Linked DNA regions of Homo sapiens. The protein of the gene in region 1 purifies or fractionates together with the protein of each later gene. This does not show direct contact. Each region holds a gene or a part of one and is shown in the gene's direction. Other genes may lie near its edges. The genes, in order: TMEM41B and SLC6A15.

Evidence for each region.
Region 2: the proteins of TMEM41B (region 1) and SLC6A15 purify together in Homo sapiens (affinity purification with mass spectrometry; 2 studies listed by BioGRID and IntAct, with this or other methods). This does not show direct contact.

Annotation. Positions count from the first base shown.
Region 1 is NC_000011.10:9,283,591-9,293,652, reverse strand, and holds part of TMEM41B (transmembrane protein 41B), read left to right. Parts: intron 1-5,110; coding exon of another isoform or gene 5,111-5,117; coding exon 5,118-5,211; intron 5,212-5,846; coding exon 5,847-5,951; intron 5,952-7,059; coding exon 7,060-7,198; intron 7,199-10,059; coding exon 10,060-10,062. UniProt on the Homo sapiens protein: Phospholipid scramblase involved in lipid homeostasis and membrane dynamics processes. Has phospholipid scramblase activity toward cholesterol and phosphatidylserine, as well as phosphatidylethanolamine and phosphatidylcholine.
Region 2 is NC_000012.12:84,900,798-84,910,859, reverse strand, and holds part of SLC6A15 (sodium-dependent neutral amino acid transporter B(0)AT2), read left to right. Parts: intron 1-10,062.

The DNA of each region.
Region 1 (10,062 bases):
CTGAGATCGTGCCACTGCACTCCAGCCTTGGTGACAGCAAGATTCCATCCCCAAAAAATAAAAATAACAAAAATAAAAAGAATCAGAAGTATCCATATGTTGTTGAGGTATTAACTCACAATATACAGATAAGTGAAAGAACAAAGGGCAAAATAGTACACAAATATGCTGTGTTTTATCTAAGAAGGGGATAATATGAGTACACTCATATACATAAGTATCTTGTTATATTTTTCTTAAAAAACTAATTGGCCGGGTGTAGTGGCTCATTCCTGTAATCCCAGCACTTTGGGAGGCTTCAGCAGGAGGATTGCGTGAGGCCAGTGGTTCGAGACTGGCTTGGGCAATGTAGCTAGACCCAGTTTCTACGAGAAATACAAAAATTAGCTGGATGTCTTGGTACATGCCTGTAGTCCTAGCTACTTGGGAGGCTGAGGTGGGAAGATCACCTGAGCCCAGGGAAGTTGAGGCTACAGCGAAGCATTTAGCCTCTGCACTCCAGCCTAGGTGACAGTGAGACTGTATCTCAAATAAATAAACCAGTAAAAATGTTTACCTGTAGGGAGAGAGATAAAATGGTAGGACTGAAACTTTTCTTAGCGTAGGTTTGACTTGAGAACCAAGTAAATGTTTTACATAATTACAAAATCAAAATGAAAAAAGAGAATAGCAGGAATCTTAAGAATCAAAAGCAACCTCACACTCATTAGGATGGCTATCATGAAAATAACAAGTGTTGGCAAGGATGTGGAGAAATTGGAACTCTTGAGCACTGTTGGTGGGAATGCAAAATGATGCAGCTACTATGGAAAATAGTATGGCAGTTCCTCAAAAATTAAGAATAGTATTATCAGGGCCGGGTGTGGTGGCTCACACCTATAATCCCAGCACTTTGGGAGACCGAGGCAGGCTGATCACCTGAGTTTGGGAGTTCAAGACCAGCCTGACCAACATGAAGAAATCCCGTCTCTTCATGTATTTTTTTGTAGCGATGGGATTTCATCATGTTGCCCAGGCTGGTCTCGAACTGGAACTCTTGGGCTCAAGTGATCCTCCCACCTCAGCCTCCCAAGGTGCTGGGATTACAGGTGTGAGTCACCAGGCCTAGCCAAAAATCTTAAAACTGTTTTTAGTCATCATATTGTTAGTAGTAATAATGTTGTAAAATATTTAAATATGTGGAAACGTTTTAGATTATTAATACTAATGCATAGTATATATTTTATACATTTACTTTATGTTTCATAGTATATAAAGCACAAATAGGCAACTATGTTGGTGTTATCAAGAACCAAGATTTTTCAGTGTAAGAGAAGAGAAATCTAAACAAAGTTAAGCTCAAGTCACATTCCCATTTAAAAGGAAGCATAGTTTTGACTACTAGTATAAGATAAAGGATAGAACATAAACTACCCTAAGTATCCAATAGGCAAAATTCAATAAATGGTAAATTCTACAAATGATCTGGTTTCTTCAGTAAATTGAAAGAAAGAAAAAATAAAGACCCTATGCTTAAGTGATCCTTTGAGCAAATACTTTGTGTGGACTTCTAGATTCTGATCAGACTAGTCTTTAGGACAATAAGGAATTATAGTTAATTTCTTGAAGTCTGACAATGGTATCATATTTATGTTAAAAAGAAAAGGAGGCCAGGCACGGTGGCTAACACCTATAATTCCAGTACTTTGGGAGGCCGAGGCAGGTGGATCACGAGGTCTGGAGTTCAAGACCAACCTGACCAAGATGGTGAAACCCTGTCTCTACTAAAAATACAAAAATTAGCCAGTTATGGTGGCAGGCGTCTGTGATTCCAACTACTTGGGAGGCTGAGGCAGAGAATTGCTTGAACCTGGGATGCGGAGAATGCAGTGAGCTGAGATCACGCCACTGCCCTCCAGCCTGGACGACAGAGCGAGACTCCTACCACAAAAACGAAAGGAAAAAAAAAGGAATTGGCCGGGCGTGGTGGCCACACCTGTAATCCCAGCACTTTGGGAGGCCAAGCGGGGTGGATCACGAGATCGGGAGATGGAGACTATCCTGGCCAACATGGTGAAACCTGTCTGTACTAAAAATAAAAAAAATTAGCTGGGCGCGATGGCACACGCTTGTAATCCAAGCTACTCGGGAGGCTGAGGCAGGAGAATCGCTTGAACCTGGGAGGCAGGGGTTGCAGTGAGCCAAGATCATGCCACTGCACTCCAGCCTGGCGACAGAGCGAGACTCAGTCTCAAAAAAAAATTTATTTTTATTATTATTATAATTTTTTTGAGATGGGAGTCTCACTCTGTTTCCCAGGCTGGAGTGTAGCGACGCGATCTCGGCCCACTGCAACCTCCGCTGCCCGAGTTCAAGCAATTCTCCTGCTTCAGCTTGCCAAGTAGCTGAGATTACAGGCACCTGCCACTGCGCCCGGCTAATTTTTTGTATTCTTTGAACTCCTGACCTCATGATCCACCTGCCTTGGCCTCCCAAAGTGTTGGGATTTACAGGTATGAGCCACCGCGCCCAGCCTTATTTTTATTTTTATTTTTTTTGAGACAGAGTCTCACTCTATTTCCCAGGCCAGAGGTCAGTGGCATGATCTCGGCTCACTACAACGTCTGCCCTCTGGGTTCAAGAGATTCTCGTTTCCCAGCCTCCTGAGTACCTGGCATTACAGGCATGAGCCACTGTGACTGGCCAATTTTTGTATTTTTATTAAAGACAGGGTTTCATCGTGTTGGCCAGGCTGTTCTTCAACTCCTAGTCTCAAGTGATCCACCCTCAGCTGCCTAAAGTATTGGGATTACAGGCGGGAGCCACGGTGCCCAGCCTGAAATATGTTAATATAGGGCATCATAACACTAGTTTCTCTACTTTGTTTTTTTTTCCCCAATTTCAGCTGTAATTTTAGGTTTCCTTTTCAGAGAAGTAGGAATTGCACCAAATTTTGGGAAAGGAAAAAATACAGTTGCGTTAAACAACAAAAACAACAAAACACTTCCTGGGAACTTGTCCTCATTTATTTCTGCTTCTCTCAATTTCCTCAAGGGAAAATTTCCATTTATCTCCTTTCATCCTTTGGAGTCTTGCTTTCTTTTCTTTCTTTTTTTTTTTTATTATTATACTTTAAGTTCTGGGGTACATGTGCACAGCGTGCAGGTTTGTTACATACGTATATGTGTGCCACGTTGGTTTGCTGTACCCATCAACTTGTCATTTACATTGAGTATTTCTACATTTACATATGTGTGAAACTATCCATAATATGATGTTTTGTTTTGTTTTGTTTTTGAGATGGAGTCTTGCTCTGTTGCCAGGCTGGCTTGCAGTGGCGAGATCTCGGCTCACTGCAATCTCCTGCTTCCTGGGTTCAAGCGATTCCCCTGCCTTGGCTTCCCGAGTAGCTGGGACTACAGGTGCCCACCACCACGCCCGGCTAGTTTTTTGTATTTTAGTAGAGACGGTTTCACCATGTTGGCCAGGATGGTCTCGATCTCCTGACTTTGTGATCCGCCTGCCTCAGACTCCCTAAGTGCTGGGATTACAGGCATGAGCCACCCCACCCGGTCCATATAGTACAATCTTAACCCAAAAAGTGTGTGTGTTTGTGTGTGTGTGTGTGTGTGTGTTTTGTTTTTGACAGAGACATGTAGGAGACAGGTGGAAAATTTGAGGCTGATGAACCAAAGAGAATTTCGAGTTTTTAGTACTATATGTGGTTGATACTTGAAGCCATGGAAATTGCCAAATTTATCAAAGAAAAGGGATTGTGTGGCCAACAGAATGTTAGAGAAATTTCAAGAGTTGAGGGCAAAGAGAAAAATCTAGAGAAGAAATTACCTGTAATGTAGAAGAAAAAGTACAGTTCACTGAAGCCATGTTTCATGCAGGATGAAGTCTAATCCTATGCAGGGATCACTGAAAGGTGACTATTGAGAAAAAGTTATTATTGGCTGTGAGGAAGTTTCAATAGCATAGTGGAATAGTAAAGCAGGTCACAGGGAACGAGGAGAGAATCTCCTCTGAGGAAGTGAAGATGAGCGGTAGCTGGATAGGATACCCTGGTTGAGGTTGTTTTTTAAGTTATAGACAACTGAGTAGTTTTGTAGAGGAGGCATCCTGTGAAAGAGAACAGAGTTGAAGGTGAAAAAACCCAGGAGGAAGGAGGAGGAGATTGAAATGAGAACATGAGTAAAATGGGAACTAGAGAAAAAGGAATAGTTAATGAGTGAGGATAGATGGAGAGATGTTGAGGGAATTCACTTTGACTTGTGAGTAAATCATATTAGAGGGGAAAAAGGTTCAGATCCAAACTGGGAACGACAGGAAAGTAAAAAAAAAAAAAAATCTATTTTAAAAACAAGATTTGTGGCCCGGGTGTAGTCGCTCATATCTGTAACCTCAACACTTTGGGAGTCCATTGTGGGAGGATCGTTTGAGCCCAGGAGTTCAAGACTAGCCTGGGCAACTCAGCCAGACCTCATCTCTACAAATAATAAAAATTGGTGTGGTGACACACGTCCGTGATCCCAACTACTTGCAAGGCTGAAGTGGGAGAATTGCTTGAGCTTGGGCATTTGAGGCTGCAGTGAGCCATGAGTGCGCCACTGCGTTCCAGCCTGGGTGACAAAGCAAGACCCCTTCTCAAATAAGATTTGTGACTTTTACTATATTTTGTAATTTCTATTCTTATTTTTCTTATTTTCTTTTATTCTCTTGTAGTTCCTATTCCTTTAAAATGAGTAGTGAATTTAGGTAAACCTTCATAGTTAAATTAGAAATAATTGTATGTACATGATTTCCCTGAAAACATTTGGGAGTAAAATAAAATGTATTAGAGAAGCACTAAAAGATTACGGAAGACCTTTTCTTTTTTCTTTTGTTCCTCCCCCAAAGTGCCCGGTTCCTCTCTATCTAGAACATACGGTTTTTTGTCTTGGAAACCTTTTAGTAGCACACACTTACTAGTATTTATGATACTGTTTAGTAAATGGTCAACTTAGAGGCTAGACCTTTGGATATAATCTCATTGTATGATAATTTTTGTATTTATACTTTTTTCCTGAAATGTTACATTTGTCTTTTAAAATTCTACTTAATTATATTCTAATCCTTAACTTAAAAGTTACCAGCTTGCAAACATTTGCTATTCCAGGCTCTATATTTCTCAGTATACTCTCAGGGTTTCTTTATCCCTTTCCACTAGCCTTATTTCTTGTTTGTTTGGTAAGTATGAAAAAATAAAATTGGGAGACTGAAAAAACAATAGAATGATGAGGATGATGATGATACTTTAACCCTACTAGTCTATGTAAGCATAAACTCATTAATTGAAGAGGAGTTAATGTTAAAGTCCCTCCACAAGGAGGTGTTATAATTTGTTTTTCCCCCAGAACAGACCAATTATAGACTTAGTTGCATTTATAAGCTATGTTTTAGCTTTTCTTTCCTATTGGATTTTGTAACTGCGACAGTCCAAGGAGTGTTGGTGAGCACAATGAGTTAAGTCCCAGAGCCAGAGGTGGTGTTTTCAAGCTTAGGAACTGGGGGGGTCGGGGGTAGGGTCGGGGGGAGGTGGAAATTGGCTCCTGAAATTTTATTCTTAGGCTAAAGCCTAGCATTAATTATTTGGATATAGTCACTAGGTGTAATCACAAGTGCCAGTTTGTTTTAGCTGATCTCATTTGAGGTACATTTTGGTCTGAGAAAGTACTAGATCATCTCTGCACAAGAGATGTCATGCAGAGTACCCTCCCCACCTCTGAAAGAAGTAAATTAATTGAGCTTTTTACTCAGGTGAATAAATCAATGTGAGTAAGACGGAAAAATACAAAACGCTTATGGCTTCTTTTGTTTTCCAGTGTTCTGGACTTGGTGCCTCTTTCTGTTATATGCTTTCCTATTTAGTTGGGAGACCAGTTGTATACAAATACCTAACAGAGAAAGCAGTAAAATGGTCACAGCAGGTAAACATGTATTTTTAAATTATTTGATGTAACTCTTTGTTAATTGGAAGGTCTGTGTTTAGTCCCTACATGAATTAACTACATGTATTAACCCAACATAAATTAATTCCTAAGTTAACTCAAGTAATAAGAATTATCTTCTGACCAAATAAAAATGGGTGGTAGGCAAATATGAATGTTAATAATTTCAAATACAAATGTTTCAGACCTGTGATGGTAATTTTAATTCTTTATCTTAGTAAATTTAATCAGCAGAGAAGTCAGTGTGAATATAAAGGCATCCACATAATTAGATACCTATCTGTTTTATGTTAATGCAGTATTGTGTGCATCTGTTATGGAAACACTTGTATCAGCCAACTCCCAGTGCATTTTTTTCTTTTCTTTTTTTGAGACGGAGTCTTACTCTGTCACCCAGGCTGGAGTGCAGTGGCATGACCTCGGCTCACTGCAACCTCTGCCTCCTCGGTTCAAGCATTTCTCCTGCCTGCCTCAGCCTCCCAAGTAGCTGGGATTATAGGTACATGCCACCACGCCTGGCTAATTTTTTGTATTTTTAGTAGAGACAGGGTTTTACCATGTTGGCCAGGCTGGTCTCGAACTCCAGACCTCAGGTGACCCACCTGCCTCAACCTCCCAAAGTGCTGGGATTATAGGCATGAGTCACCACTGGCCTTTTTTGATGATTTCTTTTCTTTTTTGAGTCAGAGTTTCGCTCTTGTTGCCCAAGCTGAAGTGCAGTGGCGTGATCTTGGCTCATTGCAACCTCTGCCTCCCGGGTTCAAGCGATTCTCCTGCCTCAGCCTCCCAAGTAGCTAGGATTTCAGGCACATGCCACCATGCCCGGCTAATTTTTTGTATTTTTAGTAGAAACGGGTTTCACCATGTTAGCCAGGCTGTTCTCGAACTCCTGACCTCAGGTGATCCGCCTGCCTCAGCCTCCCAAAGTGCTGGGATTACAGGCATGAACCACCTCGCCAGCCTGATCATTTCTATTGGGTATACTCTGAAGTATCAGGAATGAGAATTTGAAATAAGGTGTTTATATTAAGCAACTTATTTTGAAGTTGTCCTCATCTGATGCTAATTCTTTTCTTTCTTATGACAGGTTGAACGTCATAGAGAACATCTCATTAACTACATTATATTTTTGAGAATAACACCATTTCTGCCTAATTGGTTTATTAATATCACATCTCCTGTGATAAACGTGCCATTGAAAGTTTTTTTTATTGGTACTTTTCTAGGTAAGCCCTCTGGTTCTTGCTGTGTATGAGCTCACTGTGTACATATCTAACAGTGTCCAGCTGGGCTAGATTACATGCATGCTCTCTGCAGATTATGCCAGCACCATCTAGAATTCTTGGGCACAAAGCCTGGCTGTATAAATAGATGCTCAGAAGTGTTTGTTGAATTGTGTTGATTTAGGTTATTTTTGTGTCGCCTCTTTAAAGAAGAACACTTTCTACTGTATATCGTTTTAATGATATAGGGTTAAGCAGGACTTCCAGTCCCTCTAAGTGGAGAGGAAAAAAAATCAAATTGCCTTTTTTGAGCAATTTTCTCCTATGTCCCTTCCCCTTCCTCTTCCCTGAGTCTCGATCTGTCGCCCAGGCTGGAGTACAGTGGCATGATCTCGGCTCACTGCAATCTCCGCCTCCCGGGTTCAAGCGATTCTCCTGCCTCAGCCTCCCAAGGAGCTGGTACTGCAGGCACACGCCACCACGTCTGGCTAATTTTTGTATTATTAGTAGAAATGGGGTTTCACCATGTTGGCCAGGCTGGTCTCGAATTCCTGTCCTCATGGTCCACCTACCTCAGCCTCCCAAAGTGCTGGGATTATAGGCGTGAGCCACCGCACCCAGCCCTTTCTTTTTTTTTTTTTTTTTGTAAATGTTGCTTTGGCAAAATAGCTCCTTTGTTTTCTAATCAAGTATTAAAATGTTGAACTTGAATTTTCAGTAGAGAATTGATCCTATTTTTCCTTTTACTGAAACCAGCTTTTATCGCGGATGTTATCAAAAGTATGGAAAAAGCAAGGATCAACAAACTTTCTTGCTTTTAAGGAAATAATACTTGATTTTGAAATTAATCAGTGGACATGAAAATTACTTACATATTTTGTGAATTCTCATGATTCTTTGTAGGAATGTTTTGCTCTTCTTTCCAGTTCGAGTTGAATTGTTTAGAAGTCAAAAATACGAGCAGATTTCTTACATATTGAATACCTATTAAAGCTTAAGTTAATACTTGTGAGAATATGTCTTTTTGAAAAGAATAACCAAAATCAATTATTTATTGCTACTTTAAAAAAAAATTAGCCGGGCGCGGTGGTTCACGCCTATAATCCCAGCACTTTGGTAGGCCAAGGCGGGTGGATCACAAGGTCAAGAGTTCGAGACCAGCCTGGCCAATATGGTAAAACCCTGTCTCTACTAAAAATTCAAAAATTAGCTGAATGTGGTGGCAGGTGCCTGTAGTCTCAGCTACTCAGGAGGCTGAGGCAGGAGAATCACTTGAACCCAGGAGGCAGAGGTTGCAGTGAACCGAGATTGTGCCACTGCACTCCGGCCTGGGCGACAGCAAGACACTGTCTCAAAAAAAAAAAAAAAAGAAAGAAGGAAAGAATGAAAAGAAAAGAAAAAAAAATGGACAAACTTACATCAGCATGGGGAATTTTTAATTTTGTTAAATGTCATATCCATGGAATCTAAAGAGAGAATTTTTGTTTCTATCTCCATTTTATAGGTGAAAGCCAGAGATTTAGTTAATTTCAGCTTTGGCCAAAGTAATTTATTTCCCTTTGTTTTGATTTTTAGTGAAATGTCATCATTCTCTATGTACTTTTGTATACACTGCTCTCTTTACTCACACTTTGAGTATCTTGACCTTGAAATTGCTAGAACAGAGCACGTTTCTTTCTTTTTTTTTCTCTTTTTGAGACAGATTCTCTCTCTGTCGCCCAGGCTGGAGTGCAGTGGCGTGATCTCAGCTCATTGCAACCTCCGCCTCCTGGGTTCAAGTGATTCTTTTGCCTCAGCCTCCCAAGTAGCTGGGATTACAGGTGTGCGCCAACACACCCAGCTAATTTTTGTATTTTTAGTAGAGATGGAGCTTCATCATGTTGGCCAGGCTGGTCTCAAACTCCTGACCTCAGGTGATCTGCCTGCCTTGGCCTCCCAGGGTGCTGGGATTACACGTATGAGCCACTGTGCCGGGCCTGTTTTTTTTTCTTTTAAGGTTTTTGATAGTCTGGGTGTGGTGGCTCACACTTGTAATCCCAGCACTTTGGGAGGCTGAGGCGTGTGAATTGCCTGAGCCTGGGAGTTACAGAGACCAGCCTGGGCAATATGGCAAAACCCCCTCTCTTGACAAAAAATTCAAAAATTTTGCCTGGGTGTGGTGGTACACGCCTGTAGTCCCAGCTGCTCAGAAAGCTGAGGTGGGACAATCACCTGAGCCTCGAGAGACTGAGGCTGCAATGAGTGATGATTGCACCACTGCACTCAAGCCTGTGCGATAGAGTCAAACTCTCGGGGGGAGAAAACAAAAGCATTTTTGATAAATGTAAAACTATTTTCTGGGCCCTTTTCTTGCGTTTTTAAAATTCATTATTCTGGCCAGGTGCAGGGGCTCATGCCTGTAATCCCAGCACTTTGGGAGGCTGAGGTGGGCGGATCATCTGAGGTCGGGAGTTTGAGACCATTCTGACCAACATGGAGAAACCCCATCTCTACTGAAAATACAAAATTAGCCGGGTGTGGTGGCACATGCCTGTAATCCCAGCTACTCGGGAGGCTGAGGCAGGAGAATTGTTTGAACCCGGGAGGCGGAGGTTGCAGTGAGCCAAGATCGCGCCATCGTGTTCCAGCGGGGGCAACAAGAGCGAAACTCCGTCTCAAAAAAAAAAAAAATCATTATCCTTAAGAGGTGATTAGGAAAGATTGAATTCTTTATATGGAAATAAACTTGAGCTTTAAATTCTTAATTTTTTTTCCAAAATGGAAATAGCTGTGTTGTTTTAAGAAACTTTATGCACACAGAACATTTTAATTTTTTAAAAACAATTGCGGTGGTTTTTACTGTATCTTTTTATATTTTATTTCAGGTG
Region 2 (10,062 bases), on another chromosome or scaffold:
AGCCTAATGCCGGAGCCCGCTGCCGCTTACAGGCTGGGGCCATTTATAGGTACGGGCAGAAGGGGTCTGAGCAGTATGGCTTGCTGCTCCGCGGGATATTAATAAGATGCTTCCATGAAGAGGCGGTTCTGGCTCTTGTTCCGGCGCGATGTCGTTCTGTTGTTCAGGGTGTTCCTTGGACCTTTGTCCAGCAAGATATGATAGGGATGTCTCTTTAGTTAGGCCTTTGTCCAACTCGTGGTCAGTTGGTTAGACGGGATGTTTCTCACAGCTCGAACCCCTGTGAAATGTTTCGCTTTCACCAAGGTCTGCAAAATAGCAGGGAGCTTACAACATGGTGCAGTTTGGACTAACAAACAGTATGTATTTTTTTCTCTCATATTAAATTCAAGATATTTGACCATCAAAATCAGGCGATTTTATTTTTATGTGTTGTTGCCTTTTCTATGGAATCATCAATGATCCATGTGTATTTGTTGTGGTAAAACATATCCCAACAAATTTAAAATGGAATTTATTAACCATTTTTCTCTAAATAAAGCTTTCAGTTTGTGTTTTTTTTTAGGATGACAGGAATTAATAGGATTTTTAAAGAAAGATAATCTTTTACTGTTGATAAGCTTTTCTTTTTTCTGATTGCACATTATATAGTTGATTGAAAAATTATTTTATAATTCTAATATAGTTAACTCGAGATGTAGTATTTTAATCGAATTAAGAAAGTTATTTTTATATGTTTCTAGGAGATCAGTACTCTATCACTGAATAAATATGAAATAATGCAGAATCTTAAAACTGGATAACAGTTATGAGAGATGCCAATAATCAGATGAGATGCCTTCCTTGTCACCTACTGAAACATTTAAAATAAGTCAGAATAGTTACTAAACTCTAAAGTCCGTATTCATAGTTACTACCTTACCCAGTGATCATAGTTGAAATTGTAAATATGCTTCTCTTGTCATAAAATATAATTTGTATATGAATAGGTAAGATATTTGCATTCTTTTTAACTCTGGGATTATATCATCTAGGAAATTGAATCATTGACTTAGAATAGCAGACCCAAAAGAGAGCTTGGTGGCTATCAAAAGCTCCTAAAAACTTTTCTTTCACTTCTCAATGGACCTCTCACCTTGTGGAAGAGTATGTTAATTCTTTATTACTACATACATATGCATGATAGGATATATTAGTATATTCTTATGCAGCTGTGCAGAGTAGATTTTGAAATGGTTTCTCAGCAGATAGTATTAATAAAAATCTACAGGCATAGTTGGATGCATGAACAACATTCAAGGTTACATAGCAGGAATCATTAGATTTATTTCTACTTTGCTTATCATACCACTCTTCTGGCTGTCTTTACTAAACAATTTTTGATGTATTTATCTGCTTAAATATTAACTTTGACCAGTAATGATCATCTCTTTTTCTGTGAACAACAAGCCCTAAAAATAAACTGGGATATAGGGCAATTTCAAATGCAGAGTATCACTTGACACAGGGCAGAGCTGTAAGTTGTGTTCAGCCTTGAAGGTCACTTTATTTCCTTGTGATTAATGTGCTAAGGTATCTTTTCACATAAGATGAATTGACTTTTATTTTTAAATAGAATGCATACTTTGGGAACTTTTTCACCTATCAGATTGGCAAAGATCAAAGAGATTATTTGTTATACAGAAGACAGTAGAAGAAAGCGGGCACTCTCATGCATTGCTGGTGGTAGTGCAAATGGACACAATTTTTATCAAGGGCTATTTGGTAATATTTATCAAAATTATAAAAGCTCATACCTTTTGATCAAGCTGTTCCAGTTCTAGGAATTTATTCTACAGATATGGAGATGCAAGATATACAAAATAATTTGTTGGAACATTGTAGTAGCAAATTATCAGTGATGATCTAAATATATGGTATACCATACCAAGGAATATCATACAGTAGTTTTTTAAATGAAGCTATTACATTGAGATCAAGAGTTTTGAAGAATTTATTAGAGTGAAAAACTAAGAGGTAGAATTATGCACATAGTAATAGTTGTGTAAAAAGAAGCAGATTGGGGGCTGGTGGGGAGAAAACACATATTAGCTTGAATATATATAGAGTGTTTAAGTGTGTATACACACATATATATATGCTTGAATATACAGAAAATATTTATTGAAGATTTTGGTTACTTATTGGGAGGTACAGATGGTACAGTATATTCTAGGGAGAAAGGGTAGGAAGATATATATATATATATATATATATATGTTTCTTTACTCTTTGCCCTTTAATATCTTATTACAGTATTTTGTATTCAAAATATAAATATATAAAATATTTTAAAGTAAAGACAGAGGCAAATAAACACCTTTGGTAGAGTTTTATTCATTCATCACATGCCATGGAATTAGTAAGGTACAAAAGTCAATGAGTATTTTGACGACCCCCTGATTTTTGTTGTTGTTTCTGAATTTACAAGAAAGCTTCCTCTTTCAAGAGTTTTAGAAATAAAATTATATTGGAGAAGCATATTTAGTACTTGATTCAATAAAGTTATTTAATTATACTAGCAAAAAAGGCATAATTTTAGGGTATTAAAAAAAGTCTTAATTTTGAGATGGGTGTTGAGTCCCATGTAGTTGGTAAGAAATAACACAGAGAGTTCTTGTGAGCTCTTGACAAATTTCCTGCAAATATAACATTTTGTAATAACTATATTAAACCTTCCTAATCAGAATATTGACATTGATACAGTTAAGTTACAAAAGAGTTCCATTACATAAGGATTAACTGTGTTGGCCTTTTATAACCACAACCACTTCACTCCAGTCCCCAGGCTCTCCTTAACTCCTGGCAATCTCTACTCTGTTCTCCATATTTATTTTTTGGTCATTGCAAGAATATTATATAAATGTAATCATACAGTATTCAATGTATTTGAATTGATGTTTTTTCACTCAGCATAATTTTCTGTAGATTCATCTAAGTCATGTATATTGGTAGTTTTTGCTAAATAGTAGTTAATGGTATGGATGTGCCAGAATTTATAACTATTTACCCATTGAATGACATCTGGATTATTTCTAGTTTAGGGTTAATGTAAATAAAACTGCTATGGACATTCCTGCATAGGCTTTTCTGGAACATAAATTTTCATTTATCTGGGATAAATGAGAACACTTGCTCGGTTATGTGGTAGCAGTGTGTTTAGTTTTTAAATGAACAGTCGAACTTTTCCAGAGTGTTTGTACAATTTTACATTCTCACCAGTAATGAATAAATGATCCATTTTCTCTGCATCCTTGCCAGAATTTGGTTGTCACTATATTTTGGCCATTCTGATAGGAATATAGCAACATCTCATAGTATTTTATATTTGCATTTACCTAATGGCTAATAATATCGAGCCTCAGTTCTTGTGCTTCTTTGTCATTCATATATAATATTCATTGAAATATCTCTACCTGTTTTCTTATTTTATTTATAATGGTCGAGTTTTTTTTTGTTTTTTGTTTTTTTTCGAGACGGAGTCTCCCTCTGTGGCCCAGGCTGGAGTTCAGTGGCGCGATCTCAGCTCACTGCAAGCTCTGCCTCCCTGGTTCACACCATTCTCCTGCCTCAGCCTCCCAAGTAGCTTGGACTACAGGTACCCGCCACCACGCCCGGCTAATTTTTGTATTTTTAGTATAGACAGGGTTTCACCGTGTTAGCCAGGATGGTCTCAATCTCCTGACCTCATGATCCACCCGTCTGGGCCTCCCAAAGTGCTGGGATTACAGGCGTGAGCCACCGCGCCTGGCAACGGTCGAGTTTTAAGAGTTCTTTATATATCCTAAACACCAGTCATTTGTGACCTTCAAATATATTCTCCCATTTTTAAGCTTTTTTTTTTCCATCCTCTTAATAGATTCTTTCTCATAGCAAAAGTTTCAAATTTTGGGGCCTAGTTTATCAATTTTTGTGTTTCTGAATCCTGCTTTTGTCATGTCTAAGAGCTCTTTGGTTAACCCTAGATCTCAAAGATTTAATCTGATGACTTGTTTCTTAAAGTTTTATATTTTCCACTTAAGTTTGTAATTCATTTTGAATTAATTTTTGTATAAGATATGAGATTTAGGTTCAGGGTTATACTTTTGCCTAGGGATGTCCAATTATTTCCCGAACAATTTGTTGAAAGAGCTATTTTTTTCTCCATTGAAATTGCTTTGGTACTTTTATCAAAAATTAGTTAGGCATATTGTGTGCACTTCTTTCTGGGTAGCCTCTTCTGTTACATTCATTTTTGTCTATCCTTTCACCAACCTCACATAGACTTCATTACTGTAGCTATATAATAAGTCACAAAATTCGATAGAATCATTCCTCCCACTTCATTCTTCTGTTTAAAATTGTTGTAGCTCCTCTAATTTTTTGCCTGTTCATATAAATTTTGAAATAATCTTCTTTGTAGAAAAATGTCACTGATATTTTGATAGGAATTCATTTAACCATATATCAATTTAGGGAAATTTGACATCTTTCTTATGTTGAGTTTTCTAATCCATGAACATGGCATGTCTTCCCATACATTTAGATCTTCTTTCATTTACTTTATCAGCACTTTGTAGTTTTCAGCAAAAATGTACCATCCAGGTTTTGTTACATTTTCGTGTAATTATGTCAGTTTAATGATTGTAAATGCTATTGCATTTTTAATTTCTGTGTTCACTTGTTTATTGGTAACATATGGAACTGTAAATGATTTGTGTATGTTTACCGTGTATTCTGTGACTTTTTTGGACTATTACTCTAGAAGGTATTTTTGTAGATTCATTAGAATTTATAATATAGACAATCAAAATATCTGCAAAAAAATTGAATACTGTATTATTACATTCATATAACATTCTTGAAATGACCAAAAAATAAGTATGGAGAACAGATTAGAGGTTGCCAGGAGTTAAGGAGAGCCTGGGGACTGGAGCACAGTGGTTGTAGTTAAAAAAGGCCAACACAGGGAATCCTTATGTGATGGAAATCTTTTGTAACTTGGCTGTTCTTCTTTCTTGATTTATGTGACTTATACATAAATTTGTAACTTGACTTTTCTTGTTTCTTGATTTATGTGACTTATACAGTTAGGCTTCTGTGTCCTTAGGTTGTGCATCCACAGATTCAACCAAATGCAGATGTGAATATAGTACTTGTGGGATGCAGGACCCACAGATGAATGTGGGACTTGAGCATCTGAGAATTTTGGTATTTGTGGGAGGTCCTTCAACAATGTCCCTTGGACACTAAGGGCTGACTGTATTTTCTTTTTCTTGCCTTATGCCACTACTTAGAACTTCCAATACTATGTTGAATAAGAGTGTGAGAGTGGACGTTTTTATCTTGCTTCTTATCCTGAAGGAAAAGCATTTAGTCTTTCACCAGTAAATATAATATCAACTGTAAATTTTTTGTAGATGCTGTTGATCAAGTTGAGAAAGTTTCCTTCTGTTCCTAATTTTTGACATTTTTGATCATAAATGGACATTGAATTTTGTCTTTCCTGCATCAGTAGATATAGTCATGTGATTTTTCCTTTAGCCTGTCATTATTGTATATCACATATTGATTTTTGAATATTGAACCAACCTTGAATACTTAGAATAAACCCTACTTGATCATGGAATATAATTCTTTTTATACATCACTGAATTCTGTTTTCTAACACTGTGTAAAGGAATTTTGTGTCTATATTCATTAGGAATATTGATCTGTAGTTTTTTATTTTTTACTATGATCTTTGCCTGGTTTTGGTACCTGAGTAATACTGCTTTCATAAAATGAAATACAAATTATTCTATCATCTTCTATTGCCTGAAGAGATTGTGTAGAATTGATGTTAATTCTTCTTTAAATGTTTGGTGGAATTTTCCAGTGAGATTTCTTTTGTGACAGTTTTAAAATTATGCATTCAACTTATTTATTAGTTATATAGCTATTAAATGTTCTATTTCTTATTGGCTAAGTTGTGGTAGTTTGTGTTTTTTAAGGAACTGATTGGTTACACCTCAGTTACTAAATTTATGTGTGTAGAGTTTTTGTTAGTATTCTCTCATGGTCATTTTGATGTCTGCAGATTTTGCAATGATAATTCCTGTTTCACTTACGATATCCAAGATGCCTTAAGCATGAAATTGACTTTATGCAGCTTTACATATGATTGACTAAATGTGGCTTTGAAAGTTAATACCTATTTCTATTCTAATACCTATGAAATCACTGTGTGTATTTAAAAACCTAAACCACATATCCTCTACATAGATCTAGCCACATTGTGAACAGGTTATTGGACAATATTTTAAATTTCAGTACAGTTTGTATAATTTTAGTTAAATCCAATACATAAGTAATCTTATCCATAGACAAATGTTTCAGATATCTATTGCTACACAACAAACCATTCTACAACATAGTGTCTTAAAATAATGACTTTTTAAAATCATTCTTCTGTGGGGTGGTTGGGCTCATTTGGGTGGTTCATTTGCTCTAATTGGTGTGTTACCTGGCTGTTCAGCTAGGGCTGGAATATCAATACCTTTGTTCTTATGCCTGGAGCTTCACTTCAGATGATGGTTGCTTGAGACTATTTCTCTCTCTCTCTCTCTCTCTCTCTCCCCCTCCGCCCCTCCCCCCTTTCTCTCCCTTTCTCTCCCTCTTTCCATGTGGGGTTTCTAGCAGGAGAAGCAGACGTTTTACATGGTGCCTAGCTTCCAAAAGAGGGAAAGCAGAAACTGCCAAGCTTCTATAGCCTTGGAACTTGCATAGTTTCACTGCTGCTACCTTCTGGTCAAAGCAAACCAAAGTTAACCCAGATTTAAAAGAAGGGAAAACAGCCTACTACAACAAATAACTATAAAAGATCAAACAACATTGTATAAGGATGTATGAACAAATAAAACATATTCAGTGCCTTTAAATTAATATTTTTAGAAAACATAGTATAAATTAGTTTAAATAATAGTATATGCCTCCTAAAGATGTGTCCAGTTCCTACTTCCTGACATCTATAAATGTTACCTAATTTGGAAGAAAAGTCTTTGCAGATATAGTATTGAGATGAAGATATGATTTCGGAAGATCCAGATGGGCCCTACATGCCATGACAAGCATCCTTATAGGAAAGATGGAGAGGGATGTTAGACTGAAGTAGAAGGAAGTAGGCAATCTGACTACAGAAACAGAGAATGGAGTAATGAGGCCACAAATTGAGGAATGCCAGCAGCCACCAGAAACTGGAGAAGGCAAGGTTCATGTTCTCCCCTAGAGCCTCCCGAGAAAATACCACCCTGGTAACGCCTTGATTTTGGTTGACTGTAACTTAATTTGGATTCTTTGGTCTCCGGAAGTATGAAAGAATACATTTCTGTTGTTTTAAGACATTAAATTTGAAGTAATTTTTTTTATTCTCAATGTTTTTTAGGGCATATTAGTATATTTTATTTTATTTTTTGTTATACTTTAAGTTTTAGGGTACATGTGCACAATGTGCAGGTTTGTTACATATGTATACATGTGCCATGTTGGTGTGCTGCACCCATTAACTCGTCACTTACATGAGGTATACCTTACGTTAATAAAACTTTGTCTTAAAAACTTTTTGTCTACTTCAGAAATCTCTAAAAGAATTTTGAAAGATTGTCTATCTTTGATTCACAGAAGTCAACAAAAATATACTCCAATTTATGGAAATTGCTTTATGATTATAATTAATTTTGAAATAATTACGATTTCACAGAAGGGTGCACATGGAGGTGTATGCACCATTTACTCGACTTCCCCACCACTAACATCTTATGTCAGATACGGTACTATATAAAAACCAGCATATTGATGCTGGTATAATCCATAGTATGTCCACGTTTATAGCTCTGTGAAATTTTATAAAATGTATACCTTCTTCTATCCCTTACCACAATGAAGATAGTAACCTGTGTGCCTTACCATATGATTCTCTCCTGCTACTCTTTTATAAGCACACCCATTTACCCTCTCCATCCCTAACTCTTCAAACCATGAATATGTTGTTTATTTCTATAATTATGTTATTTCACAAATGTTATATAAAAATTGTTATATATGTATTTCTTTGAAATTGGCATTTTTATATTGTTTTCACTGAGTATCATTTCCTTTAGGTACATGCAAGTTGTTGCATGTATCAATAGTTCTTTTTTACTGCTGAGTAGTGGTTCATGGTGCGAATGTAGCACAGTTTAACCATTCACCCATTGAAACGCATACTGGATAGTTTCCATTTTTTTTCTATTATAAGTAAAGCTGCTATGGACATTTGTGTACAAGTTTTGTAAGTTTTTTTTTATTTTTCTGTGATATATCTCTGAAATATAGTTGCTGGTTACTATGAGAAGTCTTTATTAGTGTTAAAAGTAACCAAGTTGTTTTTCAGAGTGGCTGTACCATTTTACATTTCCACCAGCAACATGTGATTGATTTAGTTTCTACATGTCCTCACCAATATTTGGTGTTATTAATTTAAAAAACAAAGTTTAGCCATTCTGATAGGTGTGTTATTTGTAGCCCACCTTTTGGGAAAAAAAATATACATTTAATGAAGTATAAATAGTGACTTGGTATTGTTATTTGTAAAAAAAGTTCCCTTCCTTTTGATTGGCTCTGTAATTTTTTATTTGATAGCTCAGTGCAAAAATTTTATGTAAACCAGGATACAATTTGCAAAATACATTTCAATTTATTGAATTCTATATTGTTAAAAATATTTCATATTATTCATCAAGATTATTATTTCAGTATTTCATGAAATCTCTTGATGAAAATATTTTTCCTCTATAATTATACCATAACTATAAACTAATTGGCATACGGTGACAATTTTTCTTGAGCATTACAGTATGGTCCAAATTTTGATTTTATTTGGATGGTCTTTATTTTTGTCCTATATTAGAAAATAGAAAAATGAATTTCATTTGAATCTATAAATAATTAAACATTTCATATTCAAATTAGTTTGTATTTAAATAAAACTTTTTTTTCAGTGAAATTTTAAGTTGTCAAAGACAGGGAGATAATTTACTAGTGTTCTAGTGCTTTATTATAGAATACTAAGCTTGTGACAAATGCCAAAAATTAGCCAGTGCAGATATATATGTTTGAGTCATCCATCATATATGTCAGATGCAGACACCTACCTGCTACTTCAAGTGTTTGCATATTTTCACTGGAAATGTTAATTAAAATTTAATATAATTTCAAAAGAGATTGTAACAATGGCTTGGAAGGTAGAAAATTTTGAAGGATGGAACAAGAATGGCAGAAAGTATTGAGTTAATTTTTTAGTGAACATATTATAGCAAGACTGGTCAAGATAAAAACAAAGAAAAAGACCTATTACCAATATCAGTAATAAAGATAAGATATGATGACGAATTCTATATGTGTTTAAAAAACTGTGGAATATTATAGAACACTTTAGGGCAATGAGTTTGGCACCTTACATAAAATGGACAAATCCTTCAAAAAGATGGCTTACCAAAAGTAAAACAAGAAAAGGAAAATCTTAGTAGCTGTATATCAATGAAATGAATTGAATTTTTAATTTAAAACATTTTCAGAAAGAAAACCCCAAGCCCAGATGGCTTTATTGGCGAGTGCTGCCAAACTTTTAAAGAAGAATGAAACTAATTCTACACATGTACTCTCAGAAAATAAAAGATAAATCATTTCAAAGCTTTCTAAGACACCACCAAAACCAGAGAAGCAAAATACATTATATATATATATACACACACACACATATACGTATACATATATACGTATATGTGTATGCATATATACATGTATATATGTATGTATATATATACATATCTATACACATATATACATGTATATATGTATGTATATATATACATATCTATACACATATATACATGTATATATGTATGTATATATATACATATCTATACACATATATACACCCACTTTCCTATGAATGTAGTTGAAAGAAAATCTATAACAAAATATAGCAGATTTATTTTAGTGATATATTAAAAAGTAATTCATCTT